Regions from separate parts of the Homo sapiens genome. Here region 1 is linked to region 2. Evidence: fine-mapped expression QTL. A gene starts in region 2. The other region holds a variant in brackets. All regions are shown on one strand. Distances are from middle to middle. Region 1 overlaps RAD54L2 (RAD54 like 2). Region 2 holds the start of RBM15B (RNA binding motif protein 15B).

What was found.
Region 1: its variant is fine-mapped to the expression of RBM15B in whole blood (INTERVAL, PIP above 0.99).

What each region holds. Positions count from the first base shown.
Region 1 is chr3:51,651,155-51,659,154 of GRCh38, forward strand. It overlaps RAD54L2 (RAD54 like 2), which reads left to right. Exons shown (of 23, transcript NM_015106.4): 20 at 4,817-5,016; 21 at 6,426-6,515. Among named protein-coding and RNA genes, the nearest start is that of TEX264, 16 kb to the right of the region's middle. The variant A/G (reference allele first, on the strand shown) is at 4,136.
Region 2 is chr3:51,386,323-51,397,382 of GRCh38, forward strand. It overlaps RBM15B (RNA binding motif protein 15B), which reads left to right and starts at 4,963. Exons shown (of 1, transcript NM_013286.5): 1 at 4,963-11,060. The coding sequence starts at 5,078. The coding sequence ends at 7,750. MANF (mesencephalic astrocyte derived neurotrophic factor) reads left to right here. Exons shown (of 4, transcript NM_006010.6): 2 at 1-13; 3 at 1,415-1,556; 4 at 2,583-3,075. The coding sequence ends at 2,767. It also overlaps a transcript of DCAF1 not described here. RefSeq lists enhancers at 4,437-4,486, 6,472-6,977, 6,978-7,485 and silencers at 4,807-5,286, 5,327-5,406, 5,517-5,576.

The DNA of each region.
Region 1 (8,000 bases), 260 kb after region 2:
CACCTCTATGCAAATAAACTAGAAAATCTAGAGGAAATGGATAAATTCCTGCACCCATATACCCTCCCAAGACTAAACCAGAAAGAAGTTGAATCCCTGAATAGACCAACAACAGGCTCTGAAATTGAGGCAATAATTAATAGCCTGCCAACCAAAAAAAGTCCAGGACCAGATGGATTCAGAGCTGAATTCTACCAGAGGTACAAAGAGGAGCTGGTACCATTCCTTCTGAAACTATGCCAATCAATAGAAAAAGAGGAAATTCTCCCTCACTCATTTTATGAGGCCAGCATCATCCTGATACCAAAGCCTGGCAGAGACACAACAAAAAAAGAGAATTTTAGACCAATATCCCTGATGAACATCGATGTGAAAATCCTCAATAATATACTGGCAAACAGAATCTAACAGCATATCAAAAAGCTTATCCACCAAGATCAAGTTGGCTTCATCCCTGTGATGCAAGGCTGGTTCAACATATGCAGATCAATAAATGTAATCCATCACATAAACAGAACCAAAGACAAAAACCACATGATTATCTCAATAGATGCAGAAAAGGCATTCGACAAAATTCAACAGCCCCTCATGCTAAAAGCTCTCAGTAAACTAGGTATTGATGGAACGTATCTCAAAATAATAAGAGCTATTTGTGACAAACCCACAGCCAATATCATACTGAATGGGCAAACACTGGAAGCCTTCCCTTTGAAAACTGGCACAAGACTGGGATGCTCTCTCTCACCACTCCTATTCAACATAGTGTTGGAAGTTCTGGCCAGGGCAATCAGGCCAGAGAAAGAAATAAAGGGTATTCAATTAGGAAAAGAGGAAGTCAAATTGTCCCTATTTGCAGATGACATGATTGTATATTTAGAAAACCCCATTGTCTCAGCCCAAAATCTCCTTAAGCTGATAAGCAACTTCAGCAAAGTCTCAGGGTACAATATCAGTGTGCAAAAATCACAAGCATTCCTATACACCAATAACAGACAGAGAGCCAAATCATGAGTGAACTCCCATTCACAATTGCTTCAAAGAGAATAAAATACCTAGGAATCCAACTTACAAGGGATGTGAAGGACCTCTTCAAGGAGAACTATAAACCACTGCTCAACAAATAAAAGAGGACACAAACAAATAGAAGAACATTCCATGCTCAGAGATAGGAAGAATCAACATCGTGAAAATGGCCATACTGCCCAAGGTAATTTATAGATTCAATGCCATCCCCATCAAGCTACCAACGACTTTCTTCACAGAACTGGAAAAAACTAAAGTTCATATGGAACCAAAAAAGAGCCTGCATTGCCAAGACAATCCTAAGCCAAAAGAACAAAGCTGGAGGCATCATGCTACCTGACTTCAAACTATACTACAAGGCTACGGTAACCAAAACAGCATGGTACTGGTACCAAAACCAAAATATAGACCAATGGAACAGAATAGAGCCCTCAGAAATAACACCACACGTCTACAACCATCTGATCTTTGACAAACCTGAACAGAAACAAGAAATGGGGAAAGGATTCCCTATTTAATAAATGGTGCTGGAAAAACTGGCTAGCCATATGTAGAAAGCTGAAACTGGATCCCTTCCTTACACCTTATACAAAAATCAATTCAAGATGGATTAAAGACTTAAATGTTAGACCTAAAATCATAAAAACCCTAGATGAAAACCTAGGCAATACCATTCAGGACATAGGCATGGGCAAGGACTTCATGACTAAAACACCAAAAGTAATGGCAATAAAAGCCAAAATAGACAAATGGGATCTAATTAAACTAAAGAGATTCTGCACAGCAAAAGAAACTACCATCAGAGTGAACAGGCAACCTACAGAGTGGGAGAAAATTTTTGCAAACTACCCATCTGACAAAGGGCTAATATCCAGAATCCACAAAGAACTTAAACAAATTTACAAGAAAAAATCAAACAACCCCATCAAAAAGTGGTTAAAGGATATGAACAAACACTTTTCAAAAGAAGACATTTAGGCAGCCAACAGACACATGAAAAAAATGTTCATCATCACTGGCCATCAGAGAAATGCAAATCAAAACCGCAATGAGATACCATCTCACACCAGTTAGAATGGTGATCATTAAAAAGTCAGGAAACAACAGGTGCTGGAGAGAATGTGGAGAAATAGGAACACTTTTACACTGTTGGTGGGACTGTAAACTAGTTCAACCATTGTGGAAGACAGTGTGGTGATTCCTCAAGGATCTAGAACTAGAAATACCATTTGACCCAGCCATCCCATTACTGGGTATATACCCAAAGGATTATAAATCATGCTACTATAAAGACACATGCACATGTATGTTTATTGCGGCACTATTCACAATAGCAAAGACTTGGAACCAACCCAGATGTCCATCAATGATAGACTGAATTAAGAAAATGTGGCACATACACACCATGGAATACTATGCAGCCATAAAAAAGGATGAGTTCATGTCCTTTGTAGGGACATGGATGAAGCTGGAAACCACCATTCTCAGCAAACTATCACAAGGACAGAAAACCAAACACTGCATGTTCTCACTCATAGGTGGGAATTGAACAATGAGAACACGTGGACACAGGAAGGGGAACATCACACACTGGGGCCTGGCATGGTGTGGGGGGATGGGGGAGGGATAGCATTAGGAGAAATACCTAATGTTAAATGACGAGTTAATGGGTGCAGCATACCAACATGGCACATGTATACATACGTAACAACCCTACACGTTGTGCATGTGTACCCTGGAACTTAAAGTATAATAAAATTCAAACAAACAAAAAAACTTGACAAATGAGGTTCCAAAGGAAATTTTGGAAAACTTGCCAAATAAGTCTCATGTAAGGTTTTAGGTAAGACATTGACTTTTATGAGTGGATTTGTTGTCTTTTTTGGGGGTGGGGTACAGAGTCTCTGTTGCCCAGGCTGGAGTGTAATGGTGTGATCTCGGCTCACTGCAACCTTCGCTTCCTGGGTTCAAGCAGTTCTCCTCCCCTAGCTACCCAAGTAGCTGGGATTATAGGTGCACACCACCACGCGTGGCTAATTTTTTGTATTTTTAGTAGAGACTGTGTTTCACCATGTTGGCCAGGCTGGTCTTGAATTCCTGACCACAGGTGATCCACCTGCCTCGGCCTCCCAAGGTGCTGAGATTACAGACATAAGCCATCATGCCCGGCCATTTGTTGCTGTTTGTATAGCAAATTGAAGATACTTTTAAGTAGAAAGTCACTTTCTTACTAGACATGGTGGCACATACCTGTAGTCCCAGCCTCTTGGGAGGCTGAGGTGGGAGAATCGCTTGAGTCCAGGAATTGGAGACCAGCCTTGGCAACATAGTGGGACTCAATCTCAAAAGAGAAAGTCACTCTCTTTCAAAACTTTCAGGCTTTATTTCTGTCATTTCCCAAGATAGTATTGCTCAGGAATGGTCTCTTCTCTTTTCCTCCACCCATTCCTCCCTCTTTTTTTTCCCCCTCTTTTTTGGGCTTTTCTGTGTAACCTCAGGAGTGGACTAAACCTGAGCCCAGTGAGAGAAAAGCCACATGGAGAGAAGATGTGACAAATGGTCCAGACTAGCTATAAGGAGATGTCAGCTTTGTTTCTGGCTTAGCTCTGGCCCTGTGGGGGCACCAACTTCTCACAGCATTTGATGAGTTCATGATCCTGCTGAGTTTTTTTAATCCACATGGGTACATGTGAGGAATACTTCTTACCCAAATTCTTAGTCTTAGCCCCTGCAGGGTATGCGGCTTGGGCTGGGTTTCTGTTACATTGATACCTGACCAGGGCCTCTAACTCCTGCCAAACCATCCTAGGAAGACACTGGGGAAACAGGCCAGATAGCACAGGTCTGGGGCCCATCTGGGAACTTGGAGGTCCACAGGGACCAAGGGGCTGACCAAAGGGGCCTTTAAAAACCTAAGAGCAATGTGATTGAGGCATCATGCAGACCAGCTCCAACAGCAGAGTGGTATAAAAGTGTTATTTTATGTGCCAATCTTCAGTCAGATGAGGAAGAACATAACAGTCTTAAGGGTTTTTTTTTTTCCCCCTCCAGGCCCAAAGACGAAAGATGCAGACTTCAGAAAGCTTGTAGACAGGGACTTTTCAAAAATCTT[A/G]AATCAGTAGAAGCCTGGCTTTTGTACACACTGCTTTGGTGGCTGCTGCTTTTGTTGTTGTCATGACTGGAGGGGCACTTTGAGGGTTGTTCCAGGCTGGAGCTAGGAAGAACTCAATGAAAAGTAATACAGAAGAGAGAGAGAGGTGTCTGTATTACTTATTGAGACTCAAGGTTTCAGAGAGAAAGTAAAGATGTTTAAAGTTGGAACAGACTATTTTTTAGGATCACCTAAACGTGTCGTTACATGGCCCTTTTTCCGTGGGTGAGTGGGGAAAATTCTGCCCATCTCAACTTAACATACGCTGTGGTCTGGTGAACTTTTCCTGCCTTATTGCATCTTGACAGCTTCCTGACTTCCCTTTAGGGACTAACTCCTAATGTAGATAGTCCAGGTTCTAGAGGAGCAAATATTGTCTCCCATCTCCAGAAAGTATTATTCCACCAACATCTGATTCTCCTTAGACTTTGACAGACTTTATCCCTCTGCCTCTTTTGCTGCAACTGAGTCCTGCCTTCTAGTCTCCTTTTGAATTGACCAGACCCTGCAGATTCTTCTGATCCTTCTCTGAGCATCAACTGATGGTGTAGAATGGGGCAGCCTAGAAAGGCTCTGTAGCCTTTGGAAAAGGTAACAGTTGTTCTGCCAAACTCTTTTAGTGTCCTTGTCTTTCTCTTACAGGCAGCCAACTTTGAAGGGTGATGAAAAGCCTGTGGCCAGTGTTCGTCCTGTGCAGTCCACCCCCATCCCCATGATGCCCCGGCATGTCCCATTGGGAGGAAGTGTAAGCTCTGCCTCCAGCACAAATCCATCCATGAACTTTCCCATCAACTACTTGCAGCGTGCAGGAGTCCTTGTGCAGAAGGTGGTCACCACGACAGGTGGGAACTCCTGGGCTCTGTGGCAGAGCTGCTGTCCCTTTTAAAATTACTTTGTTCATTTAGGAAGTATCTATTAAACACCTTTTGTATTTCTGGCCTTACTACATTTGGCACTCTTGGTAAAAAATAGGGAAGACAACAGTCCCTGGTCTTGAGGAATTTGGATTCTAGTGAAATATCTTAAGAATAACAACACATAACTGGGTTTTCTTGGGTTTGGTGGGTGAGATAGACTCTGAGCACTGCAGGAATTGTGGAAATGTCACTGGAATACAGGGTTGGTCTCAGGTTCTTATAGAGGTGTGAATATGCTGAGCCCTGCCTGATTGTAGACCCATCTGGGTATAAAAGACAGCTGTCAACCTTTGTACATAATGAGAAGACCTGAATTGTCACTTGCGTCTACCTTTGCGAGTTTGATATAAATTGAGCATGGTGGGCCAGTCAGCAGTGGTGGCAGGTAGCCAACCCATCCACTCCAGGAGCTGGTTCTGTGATTCAGTGTGATTAGGAAGGAAAACATTTTGTGATCCTGTTTTTTATCTTGTTATTTAGCAATATTTATAATATATAAATTGATTATTATTTTTTTTTTTGGAGACAGAGTCTTGCTTTGTCACTCAGGCTGGAGTGCATGATCTTGGCTCGCTGCACTCCTGGGCTCAAGCGATTCTCCCGCCTCAGCCTCCCGAGTTGCTGGAATTACAGGCGTGTGCCACTATGCCCGGTGAACTTTTTTGTATTTTAATAGAGATGGGGTTTCACCATGTTGCCCAGGCTGGTTTCGAACTCCTGAGCTCAGGCAATCCACCCGCCTTGGCCTCCCACAGTGCTGGGATTACAGGTGTGAGCCATTGCACCCGGCCAATATATAAATTTTAATGAAAATATCTTAATTGATTTTTCTAAGTAAAAAATTTGAAACACATGAAAAGAAAAAGAGAGCGCCATATAATTCTATTATCTACTAATTCTTGAAAATACTGTTTCCCAGGTGTGGGGTAATGCCAGCAAGGAAGAAGATTAGGCCATTTTTGGAGCCTAAAGTGATGTGGCGCAGATGCGTGCAAACAGTTTGGGGAAGAGGAAAAAAATGCATAGAAACAACCATCTAAACTAAAACATTTTTCACACCAAAAACTATGAATTTCTAATTAAATAAAGGGAAATTGATTGCAACGATGACCAGCTCAGATTTCTGACAAAGTTCCTGTTTTCATAGTATTCTTTGTTTAGATAATTGTGAAAGATCCTGCTTGCTTCACCTTCCTTGGTTCTGGACCTCTGCCCCACTGAGAGGCTGTAGGGAAACCAATGAAGAACTGGGGTAGATGTGGGACTTTGCAATTTTCCCCCCTCCTTCAGTCAGGCCCCGTGCAATCTAAATTTAAGATCTGTGTTTTTCCTAGATATTGTTATTCCTGGACTCAACAGCTCCACAGATGTACAGGCAAGAATTAATGCTGGTGAGAGCATCCACATCATCCGTGGGACAAAAGGTAAGAGCCTGACCAAGGACCTGTTCCCTGCCTTTGGTTGAGAGTGCTGGGCTGGGAAGAAGAATAAATACATATGACTTGAGCTAGACGGGTCATAGGAATCATCCCATTAGGATGTCACATTCCGGAACTGAATGAGAAAATAGCATTTGTAGGAGCTTAGGGGAGTTGGGTTGAGCCCATAGGGTATTAGTCAGTGGTTTAAAAGAAGGAAATTAGGGTCCCTACATTTCTCTATCTTGCTGTCTTTTTTTTTTTTTTTTTTTTTTTTTTTGAGATGGAGTCTTGCTCTGTCGCCAGGCTGGAGTGCAGTTGCGTGATCTCGGCTCACTGCAACCTCCACCTCCCAGGTTCAAGCAATTCTTCAGCCTCAGCCTCCCAAGTAGCTGGGACTACAGGCATGCGCCACCACGCACAGCTGATTTTTGTACTTTTTTTTTTTTTAGTAGAGATGGGGTTTCATTATGTTGGCCAGGATGGTCTCGATTTCTTGACCTCATGATCCGCCCACCTGGGCCTCCCAACGTGCCGGGATTACAGGCGTGAGCCACCGTACCCGGCCCTTACTGTCATTTTTATGAGAATCTTGGGATGGGACAAGTAGACACAAGGAGACCAAAATTGGAGGGAAAGAGCGGTGGAATGGGTTATAAGCCTACATACATTTACCCACTTGCTTGGAGCAGGGTGGGGGTCCCCTGATAGGATATGTATTATGTGGATGAATTACACATGGGTTGCATGATAGAATTTTTGCATATGGTAATTTAAAAAGTCCACATCTGCCTCTGTCCTCCTTTCAGAGGGATATGAGATTGGTGGAATAAAAAAGCTGGGCTAAACAGTATTGAGACACAATCTAAGCCTGTTTTTTTCCCCTCTTTTCTGCACCCACGTCTTCTATCCAAGCCTGTTTTACATATTAGCCTTTAAATAAGCCCCATGATTGTGTGAGGCTCTTTGAGACTTTTTGTTCAGTAAGGAGATTTTGCCCTAGCTTCTATTGGGTTAGAGTACCTTTGAGGTTAGGGAAAAAGTGCCATGAAATACCCAGACTCATAGAAAACACCATTCCCAGCCTCCTTACTGGATTCTTCCTAGTCTAGAACCCAGCCCCCTTTACTGCTGTCTTCCTAGTTTATAGCTGGGGTCACCAAACTCTATGCCCCATGGGTCAAATCTAGCCTGCTACCTGTTATAATATCTGCGAGATAAGAATGGGTTTAACATTTTCAATTGGTTGGAAAAAAAAATCAAAAGAGTAATATTTTGTGACGTGAAATTATATGAATTTCACATTTCAGTGTCCATAAAGATTTTTTGGAGTACAGTCATGCCACGCTATTTTTGTGTTACAGCAGCAGAATTGAGGAGTTACAATAGAGACCTTATGGCTTATAAAGCTCTTACAAAAACCATCCGGCTCTTGTTTTTTTTTTTTTTTTTTTTTTTTTGAGGCAGAGTCTCGCTCTGTTGCCCAGGCTG
Region 2 (11,060 bases):
AGAGAATCGGTTGGTAAGTAGCTGGTGATCCTCCCCAACTGGCCCTGGCTCATGTTAACCCTCGGCTTCACCAGCCGTTTGATAAAAGGCCTTGCCCACCTCTCTGTTCAGGAAGCCAGCTACTCTCTCCATAAACTAATGTGAGAAGACTGAAGTGCTTCTATGTCCTTCCCAAAGCAGCATGTGTTCTGCAACTGTGATTTTTTTTTATCCTGTTAGTCTTTATTAAGCACCTACTATGTGCTAGGCACTGGGAATATCAGGGGAAAGAAGTGACAGTCGGACACACAAATAATGCAATGTCTGGGTGTCATGAAGAAAATGGACCAGCAGGTGCTGATTTAGAGTGGCCAAGAAGTCTCTGAGGAAGGGTTATCATTGAAGTGGGGTAAGACCATCCCATACAGGGAACAGCAGTGTGAGTGCCCAGAGGCCTGAAAGAGTGTGGCATGTATGTGGACAGGAGAAGGTGACAGGGTGCCTACAGGATAGGCAAGGGCCGAATCCAAGACAAAAGCCCTAGTGAAGCAATGGGTTTTCTAACTTGAATTTCTCTGACAGTCTCTGGCTTTTCTCTCTGTTAAAGGTTTGAACCCTGGTGACACTTAAATTCATTTGGTGGCTGTCAGCTTGGACTGAGCATGTGTTAAGAGTCCAGGGTTTACACTGGCTGAATCTGACTACCAGTACAGGCAGGGCACCGAAAAATGCCGCTGTGGGCCAGGTGCGGTGGCTCATGCCTGTCTTCCTAGCACTTTGGGAGGCCAAGGTGGGAGGATTGCTTGAACTTAGGAGTTTGAGATCAGCCTGGGCAAAGTGGTGAAATCCTGTCTGCACAAAAAAATTTTTAGGCTAGGCGTGGTGGCTCACACCTGTAATCTCAGCACTTTGGGAGACCGAGGTGGGTGGATCACCTGAGGTCAGGAGTTCAAGACCAGCCTGGCCAACATGGCAAAACTCTATCTCTACTAAAAAATACAAAAATTAGCCAGGCATGGTGACAGGCGCCTGTAATCCCAGCTGCTCAGGAGGCTGAGGCAGGGAGAATTGCTTGAACCTGGGAGGCGGAGGTTGCAGTGAGCCGAGCCAAGATTGCGCCACTGCACTCCAGCCTGGGTGACAGAGCAAAACTTTATCTCAAAAAAAAAAAAAAATTGTTTTAGTTAGCTGGGTGTGGTGGCCCACACCGGTAGACCCAGCTACTAGGGTGGCTGAGAGGGGAGGATCACCACCCAACAGATTGAAGCTGCAGGGAGCCGTGATCATGCCACTGCATTCCAGCCTGGGTGACAGGGAGCCCTATCTCAAAACACAAGTAAGGCCCTACAGAGAGATGATGTTTCAAGGTGTCAGTATGTTTGGAGGAGATGGCTCTCAAGCACCTCCTGAAGGCCATTGTCCTTTATTGCTCCAGTGCTACTATATCGGGGCCACAGATGATGCAGCCACCAAAATCATCAATGAGGTATCAAAGCCTCTGGCCCACCACATCCCTGTGGAGAAGATCTGTGAGAAGCTTAAGAAGAAGGACAGCCAGATATGTGAGCTTAAGTATGGTGAGTATGCCTAGTCCTTTCTTAATGAATGCTGTGCACCTTCTGGGTTTGTTTCCCATCTGGGAGAGGAAAATGATGAGCTAGAGTCATGAGTGGGTTGTATTGTATGACAGATGGTGCTAAATGCTGGAGGGCTCTGGCATGGAAGTGGGTGGAGGTCAGAATAGGCCTTATTGAAGAAGTGATATTTCAGCAAACTTTGAAGGAGGTGAGGATTAGCCAAGAGGCCAGCTAATGGAAGAGGATACAGGCAGGATAAAGGTGTCCAGTGGCATGGCAAGTCAGAGAGCATTGCAGGCTGGTGAGGGCTTTTAATCTGCGTGAAGTTAGGAGCATTAGGAGTTTTTCAGCAGAGAAGGGACATAGTACGACTTGGGTTTAACAGGCTGGTTCTGGCTGCAAGCTCTGAAGCCCCAGTGATTTTTACTATTCTGAAAAGAAACACTATGTCCAAGCATGCAAGCCCAAGAGTTAGGAACTACAGCATCTCTCTTGCTGACTGGGTCTCTGGTGTACATAGTCCCAGTCTTCAGAAACAGTCAGGGCCTCTTCTGAAAAACTTGAATGGCCAAGGACCTGTGTTCACCTACTTGCGTCTTCCTGGTACAGGTCCAGTTGGCTCCAGGTCACTGTGGTCATGGAGAGTAAGTTCCTAACTCAAAGGCCTGAGCAGGGCTGCTCTTTGGCACCAGCCTGGAGTTGTTAGTATGTGGTGACTATGTCAGAGGCACTTGGAAGATGGGAACCATGTTTCTCCTATAAGGACAGTGTGGCCTCTGTCCCTATCCTTGTTCACGCTGCATATCTGTAGTAGACATAATATGTAGCCAGCCTTCCTGGTGAAGAGGCTAGTTCCCTCTTGTGGGGGCAGTAGGCACTGACATGCCTGTAAATGTGTCTGGAAATGTCTCTTCCTCTGAAACCAGTAGGGCTGGTTTGGCCGTTCAGGGAGTGACATACTCTGGGACTACTGGGGGACTGCAGGTGCTCCACCCAGTCAGTGACTCTCCCTGCTCTCTCCTCCAGACAAGCAGATCGACCTGAGCACAGTGGACCTGAAGAAGCTCCGAGTTAAAGAGCTGAAGAAGATTCTGGATGACTGGGGGGAGACATGCAAAGGCTGTGCAGAAAAGTCTGACTACATCCGGAAGATAAATGAACTGATGCCTAAATATGCCCCCAAGGCAGCCAGTGCACGGACCGATTTGTAGTCTGCTCAATCTCTGTTGCACCTGAGGGGGAAAAAACAGTTCAACTGCTTACTCCCAAAACAGCCTTTTTGTAATTTATTTTTTAAGTGGGCTCCTGACAATACTGTATCAGATGTGAAGCCTGGAGCTTTCCTGATGATGCTGGCCCTACAGTACCCCCATGAGGGGATTCCCTTCCTTCTGTTGCTGGTGTACTCTAGGACTTCAAAGTGTGTCTGGGATTTTTTTATTAAAGAAAAAAAATTTCTAGCTGTCCTTGCAGAATTATAGTGAATACCAAAATGGGGTTTTGCCCCAGGAGGCTCCTACCAGTTTCTGCTTTCCAGTTGCAGAGTTTGGGGGGTTATTCATTCCCATTTATCTCTCAACCCACCAGTGCTGAAAATACCAGAGCAGGACATAGGGGCTGGGGCCAGCTGATGTGTGTGGGTGTGTACCACTAGAGGGCAGCAGGCACTCAGCAGAAAGGAGGTGGCGGGGGCGGGGGGTGCTGCGCTTGATACCCTGCCCCTTGATACAGTATCTGTCTTACCCGCCCAAGAGAGCTGGAGGCCACAGCTCTAGGAGGAGTGAGTCTGGGATACATTGGAGGGCCTTATATTGTGGCTCAGTACAAGCAAGACAGGGTGTCTGGAGTGTGGTTTTTCCACAAGGATATCTTCAATCAGTGCACGTCAGCACTGACATCTCTATAAAGATGCTGTTGGCCTGGCCACCTACTTGCTCTTTTGTCCATTCCAAGCCTCTGATGTCTGTTCCAGTTTTTGCAAGTCTGGCAGGAGTCAGCTTATACAAAGAGGGAGTGGGAAGCTGCCTTTTGCCTTTGTTTACCCTAGATTAGTCTAACAGTTGAGGTCCAGGGTTTTGCTGGAGTCTGCTTCTTAAGCCACTCTCTGTGGCACTGGTGCTTAGGAAACCCAGTTGTTAGTGTGAGCTGTGGCTCAATGAAGACACCTGTAGAAACCACCTGAAAGGACGGACTAAGAACCAGTGCTTTCCAAGTAATTGGTCTTGCCTCAGATCACTTCACTTGTGTCTCCTAAGCTCAGTTTGCCTGTAGGAGGCCTTGCTGCTGTGGAACCCATTGCTTTCTTCCAAGACCTTTCCCCCTGCACCTGCCTGAGCTACTCCAGGAGCTGCTTTCTCTTTGTGCGAAGAGGGCATGACTTGGTCTGCTCTTCCCCATCGCAAGGATTCTGTGCCAGAAATTGGGTCAGGTTCTACCATGGCTCCAGCAACTGTCCTTGGAGAATGAAAGCTTCCTCAATGGGCTTGAGCACCTGGGCACCCTTTCCCTCACCTCACCTGGGGAGAAGAGGTCGTCCTGAAGGTGATGAACAGGAGGGTACTGGCCAGCGAGGGGTCAGCGTGGCAAGGTGTGATAACTGCTGGCACTATCTGTGCATATGGCCTCTTCATCCTTGGCTCTTACGGCCCTACCTTTCCAGCCTGCTATCTGCCCACAGAAGAGGGTGGGACCCAAGAGTGGCGTTAAAGAGTCTATTCCAACTCCATCAACTGCAACTGCAGGCTTGTCTCTGCTTTCGGTTATTACCTGCGTGACAGCAATTGTCCTCACGGCCTTTTCGGGGACTGCTGCAGGTGAACCTGCACGTGGAGAATGCGCAGAATGTGGGCCTTGGGTCCTGGGCAGGGTCTAAGGATAGGCATGCATTAGTCCTTGGCGCCGTCAACGCCGGATCCCAGGCAGGAGATGCCAACGAGGGTGATGTGGGGTTTGCTCAAGCCTAGTCCTAGGACTGAGGGGATACTACATAAAGAGACCACTGACTGGGTCAATGCCCCAGATCCCAACGGCCATGGAAGCTGCCACTCCTGCTCCAATCAGCGCGGGCTCCAGTGCCTGCAAGAGGAGATAGCTGGACCCAGAGCGGCAAAGCACGGCTGGGAGCACAAAGCGTTAGGTCGTCTCGCCGGCCTCTCAGGGTTCACTACACTCCGCGTAGCCTCAAGCATCGGCCATGCGGGCCGCGCGGTGGCGCCAGAGCGCGCGGCCGGTCCCACTCACCCAGCACTCACAGGGTCACCTGGCACTGGGCGACGCAGCGCGATGAGGCAGGCCCGGCGCGGGTCTTGCTCCGCCCGCCGCAGAGTCACGTGGCAGGACGGCGCACCTTGATAACGCAATGCCCGGCCCCTCGGCGCCGCTCCCGCCCCGCCCCGCCGCCACCGCCGCGCCGAGTCCTTTTGTCCAAGATGGCGGCGCCGGGGGCGCTGCCTCCTCGGCCGCCGCCTCCGCCGCCGCCGCTGTGAGAAACCTACGGGCCGCCCGCCCGCCGCGCCAGCGCCATGAAGCGGCAGAGCGAGCGAGACTCTAGCCCGAGCGGGCGCGGCTCGTCATCGTCCGCCAAGCGTCCGCGGGAGCGCGAACGGGAGGCGGAGGCGGGCGGGCGGCGGGCGGCGCACAAGGCCTCTGGCGGCGCCAAGCACCCGGTTCCAGCGCGGGCCCGCGACAAACCCCGCGGCAGCGGAAGCGGCGGGGGCGGGCATCGCGACGGCCGCGGCACCGGGGACGCGAATCACCGCGCGAGTAGCGGGCGCTCCTCGGGCTCCGGCGCTGGCGGCGGGGGACGCGGCGGCAAGGCCTCGGGGGACCCGGGCGCCTCCGGCATGTCGCCCCGCGCGTCTCCTCTGCCGCCGCCTCCGCCACCGCCTGGGGCCGAGCCCGCGTGTCCCGGCTCATCCGCGGCCGCGCCTGAGTACAAGACGTTGCTCATCAGCAGCTTGAGCCCCGCGCTGCCCGCCGAGCACCTCGAGGACCGGCTCTTCCACCAGTTCAAGCGCTTCGGCGAGATCAGCCTCCGCCTGTCGCACACGCCTGAGCTGGGCCGTGTGGCCTACGTGAATTTCCGGCACCCACAGGACGCACGCGAGGCCCGCCAGCACGCCCTGGCCCGGCAGCTGCTGCTCTACGACCGCCCGCTCAAGGTAGAGCCCGTGTACCTGCGTGGCGGCGGCGGGAGCAGTCGGCGAAGTAGCAGCAGCAGCGCCGCCGCTTCCACGCCTCCCCCAGGGCCGCCCGCGCCCGCCGACCCGCTCGGCTACCTCCCGCTACACGGAGGCTACCAGTACAAGCAGCGCTCGCTGTCCCCCGTCGCTGCCCCGCCCCTGCGGGAGCCCCGTGCCCGTCACGCCGCCGCAGCCTTCGCCCTGGATGCCGCTGCTGCCGCCGCCGTGGGACTGTCCCGGGAGCGGGCCCTGGACTACTACGGGCTGTACGACGACCGTGGGCGCCCCTATGGCTACCCAGCTGTGTGTGAGGAGGACCTGATGCCCGAGGATGACCAGCGGGCCACGCGCAACCTCTTCATTGGTAACCTGGACCACAGCGTATCTGAGGTGGAGCTGCGAAGGGCCTTCGAGAAATATGGCATCATCGAGGAGGTGGTCATCAAGAGGCCTGCCCGTGGCCAGGGCGGTGCCTATGCCTTCCTCAAGTTCCAGAACCTGGACATGGCCCATAGGGCTAAGGTGGCCATGTCGGGCCGAGTGATTGGTCGCAACCCCATTAAGATAGGCTATGGCAAGGCCAACCCCACCACTCGTCTCTGGGTGGGTGGCCTGGGACCTAACACGTCACTGGCGGCTCTGGCCCGAGAGTTTGACCGCTTTGGGAGCATTCGGACCATTGATCACGTCAAAGGAGATAGCTTTGCCTATATTCAGTACGAGAGCTTGGACGCAGCCCAGGCCGCCTGTGCTAAAATGAGGGGTTTTCCCTTGGGTGGACCAGACCGCAGGCTCCGCGTGGATTTTGCCAAAGCAGAGGAGACTCGGTACCCCCAGCAGTACCAGCCCTCGCCACTCCCTGTGCATTATGAGCTGCTCACAGATGGATACACCCGGCACCGCAACCTGGACGCCGACCTGGTGCGGGACAGGACGCCCCCACACCTTCTGTACTCAGACCGAGACCGGACTTTTTTGGAAGGGGACTGGACCAGCCCCAGTAAAAGCTCTGACCGCCGAAACAGCCTTGAGGGCTACAGTCGCTCAGTGCGCAGCCGGAGTGGTGAGCGTTGGGGGGCAGATGGAGACCGTGGTTTGCCCAAGCCCTGGGAAGAGAGGCGGAAACGGAGAAGCCTTTCCAGTGACCGTGGGAGGACAACCCATTCACCATATGAGGAACGGAGTAGGACCAAGGGCAGTGGGCAGCAGTCAGAGCGGGGCTCCGACCGCACCCCTGAGCGCAGCCGCAAGGAGAACCACTCCAGTGAAGGGACCAAGGAGTCCAGCAGCAACTCCCTCAGCAACAGCAGACATGGGGCTGAGGAACGGGGCCACCACCACCACCACCACGAGGCTGCAGACTCTTCCCACGGGAAGAAGGCAAGAGACAGCGAGCGCAATCACCGGACCACAGAGGCCGAGCCCAAGCCTCTGGAAGAGCCAAAACACGAGACCAAAAAGCTGAAGAATCTTTCAGAGTACGCTCAGACACTACAGCTGGGTTGGAATGGGCTTCTGGTGTTGAAAAACAGCTGCTTCCCCACGTCTATGCATATCCTAGAGGGGGACCAGGGGGTGATCAGCAGTCTCCTCAAAGACCACACTTCTGGGAGCAAGCTGACCCAGCTGAAGATCGCCCAGCGCCTTCGACTGGACCAGCCCAAGCTTGACGAGGTCACACGACGCATCAAGCAGGGGAGCCCCAACGGCTATGCGGTCCTCTTAGCCACCCAGGCAACCCCCAGTGGGCTTGGCACTGAGGGGATGCCCACAGTAGAGCCCGGTCTGCAGAGGCGGCTTCTCAGGAACCTGGTCTCCTACTTGAAACAGAAGCAGGCCGCAGGGGTGATCAGCTTGCCAGTGGGGGGGTCCAAGGGCAGAGACGGCACAGGCATGCTCTACGCCTTCCCACCCTGCGACTTTTCCCAGCAGTACCTCCAGTCAGCACTAAGGACATTGGGCAAGCTAGAAGAAGAACACATGGTGATAGTCATCGTCAGAGACACTGCCTAGCCCAAGCCTGTCTTTCCCAGCGTCATGTTTGTGTCACAAAAGCAGTTATTTTAAAATCTGATCCCCTCTCTACCCTACCACTTTGGTTTGAATTATCTCCTGGGTTATTTTGGTTCATTTGGGTGGGGATCAAAGTCCTGTCCACCACCAAAACTAAGTTCTTAGATTTTGGGGGATTTTTTTTTTTAAACGATGAGAAGGGAATCCGGTTATGTTGATTTCTAGTGTACAAGATACTGTCTGCTGTGGTTCTGTATTTTTTTATTTTTTGACCAACTGTATGGAAAGTTGTCAGTAAAACCTTTGACAGAGGATGGATTTTTAAACCTGTTCAGAGTCCTGGTTTAATCAATCAAGCTAAAAGAATCGAAGACATCCCTAGTGCATGTACACGAATGCCCTACGTCATCCTTCCAGCACCACTGCTGCATGGGTCACTCTCGGCCTCTCAATTCTTCAGGCTCAGTCTGGACTCTACTTACACTCATTTTTATCTTGGCTGACAGCAGGCAAGCTTCAGTTTGGGCTGTGGACGCTGCCACACAAGCCTGAGTAGAGCCCATGCAAAGGAAGGGATGGGGTGAGCGCAAGGCCTGTGGTCAGCAGCTACTGATGGTTTTTTCTGCCTTAAACCGTGTGTGTGTCCATCATCATCAGTTTGAGCTGTGGCTGTTTGTTTGGGACAGAGTGCCCACTCAGCATGTTTGGCAGCAGGTAGCCTTCAGCAGCTGTGTAGTCTTGTACAAGGAGAAGCTGTGCACTGTTGATGCCAGGGGGTCTCGGGGCCCCTGATCTGTCCAGGCTCCTGGTTCGGCCTACTTTCTAGCCTCACTCAGCCCAGGGATAGCCAGTGTTGGGAGACAGAGTTGCCTCAGGTTCCCAGGGGCCCGGGAGTCCAAATACTGGAATGGAGGGTTGGAGGCAGCCTTCCTTGGATTTACTCATGAACTTTGCCTAGTTGTTTGTGATTTTTGGCTTTCTCTGGTCGTTCAGGGGTGATGGGTAATAGAGCAGGCCCGTGTCCAGTCATACCTAGAGATTTGTGGGGGGATACTGAACCTCTAGACTGAAGTACTTACCGGGGAGCACAGTGGACTAGGGGATGCCCTTGATAATGACGGTTTCCTAGGTGCAAGATCAGAGCATGTGCCTACACCTTGTGCCCTGATGCCGAGGTGGAGACCATTGGGAAATAATTAATAGATATTTTTCTGGGGGGAAATCACAAGTCACTGAGGTGTTTGTTTGTTTGTTAGGCAGTGCTAGAGCTTGAAGCCACTCAAGCCAGTTGGGGAGGAAAGGGATGCGGAGGTACCCTCTAGCTGGGAAGAAGGGTGAGATTCCGTCTTCTTCCCTGTCTCAAGTAAGTAAGGAAGGTACTGCGGACAGTGTGGGCCAGGGAGGAAAACCAGAGCACACAGTTTTGTCACCATGGAACACCCCAAATGCCATTCTTCAGCGTGTCTGGTACCTTGGATGTTCAAACAGGGAACACTGTCAGGGCTGAGGAGAACAGAAGCTCTGGTAAGCGAATGAGCCCCTAGATGATAACCAGGAACTCCAGGTTCTGCTGGCCGTGGCATCCTCTCTCCAGGTCTGCTCCCTTACCGGAGCTAGGATAAGGTAGCATGAGTGACACCTGAGATTAGAGGCTGGGGCTCACTGCAGGCTGTGGAGAGGTCATGCTGGTCCACAGGAACACTTGGCAGTGCTCTCGTAGACCCCTCGGTGATGTGGAATGGACAGGTGCCTCGCAAGAGAGCAAGCACGTTCATAACAAAACAGCAACACAAAGACATGTTAAGCATGTTTATTTATTTGCCTGTTTTTGTTTTTTTACTTGAGCTGTGGTCACAGCTGCCAGGTACCTAAGCAAGTCAGTTGGGTACAGCAGGACACGCCACCATTCCAGGGTAGCTGGTACCGCCAGAAACAGGAGTGGGTCTTGTCCTGTTGCAGGCACACTGCAGTGGTTTTCCTGCAGCTCTCCAACAAACGCCTGAGTCACAGGCCAGAGCTGCCTTGGTATGTTGTTAAGTCCAAAACTTCTTCTCTGGGCTACCTATCTTCCTTCATGAAGCAGGTGCTCAGGACCCGGAAGAATCATCTACCTCCCAGCTTTGTGAGACAGAACCAAGTAAAAGGAAACATGCTAGAAAACGTGCCTAGAGAAGACACTTCAACCTTTGCCTTATCCAACCCCTCTTCAGAGAAAGGTGTCCCATGGCCCCAAAAAGAACTGCCAAGTTTTGGTGAGGAGTAACACCCTGGCATGACATTCCTTCTCTTTCCTGGCCCTCAACCACTTCCTTCCTTTGGCTCTTAAGACCTAGCAGGTTCTGTGAACTCTCAGGCCTTGGCCAGCACTAGTTAGGGGAGGTCAGGTGGTCAATGTCCTGGTGATTTTATGAGACTGCCCCACTGAGAAAACTTACTTACTTCAGGCATCCAGTGCCCCCACCCAGGGTTCAGGCCCTGTCTAAGGTGTTGCTTAAAGACAAAAAGGCAACATGTGCCTCACTGGTGGTGTGCCACTGTTCTCATGCTGCCTCCTAAGTGACTCCGATTTTCAGCCCTGGTAGAATAAGGAAGACAGCTGATGCCTCCTTAGCCCCTTAGCACATGTTCCTAAGGTGTGTTGTCAAGCCAACCTGAATTCTGCCTCCCTGTTATAGTCCCTGTCTCCCCCACAGAGACCTGTGGGTGCTCCCAGCAGAGTTGAGACTGGCTCCGTTGAGTTAATGACTAGAATATAGTGCTTTCACTACTTGATTGTTAACCTGTTTTCTTCTGATGCCATCAGTACCAGCAGTCAGACTATTCCACTGGTTAAGTGTTTACTACCATTAAAGCGAGGCATGAAGCAAAGAGCTGAGTGAGTCCTCTGCTCTCCAGAGGACCAAGAAATACCTGTGTGACACAGACCCACTTCAGTGTGTACAGCAAATTCTATAGTGCTTCTGAGCCCAGCAGGGCTTTACCTGCCCCTGGAGAGTTTTAGCCGTCTTGTGTTTCTTGTTTACTTCACAACCAAATTTGTCCCCTCTTCTCTCTGTTAAGGGAGAGAAGTCACTTTAGCTGGATAATACCTATGTAACAAACTGAGCAGCTGTTATTTGGGCAAAATCAAAGGAAGAAAGAGACTATGGTCTTCTATTTATTGTGGGAAGGAAAACAGGGTGGGGCGGGTGAGTGAAAAGGTGGAAATCCCTGGTACCTTGCCTGGTGGTTACACAGTTTAACCATAGGCCAATTTTAGGGGCCTCTGAAGTATCTTTCTACAAACGCAGACAAGCTCCACTACCCCTAA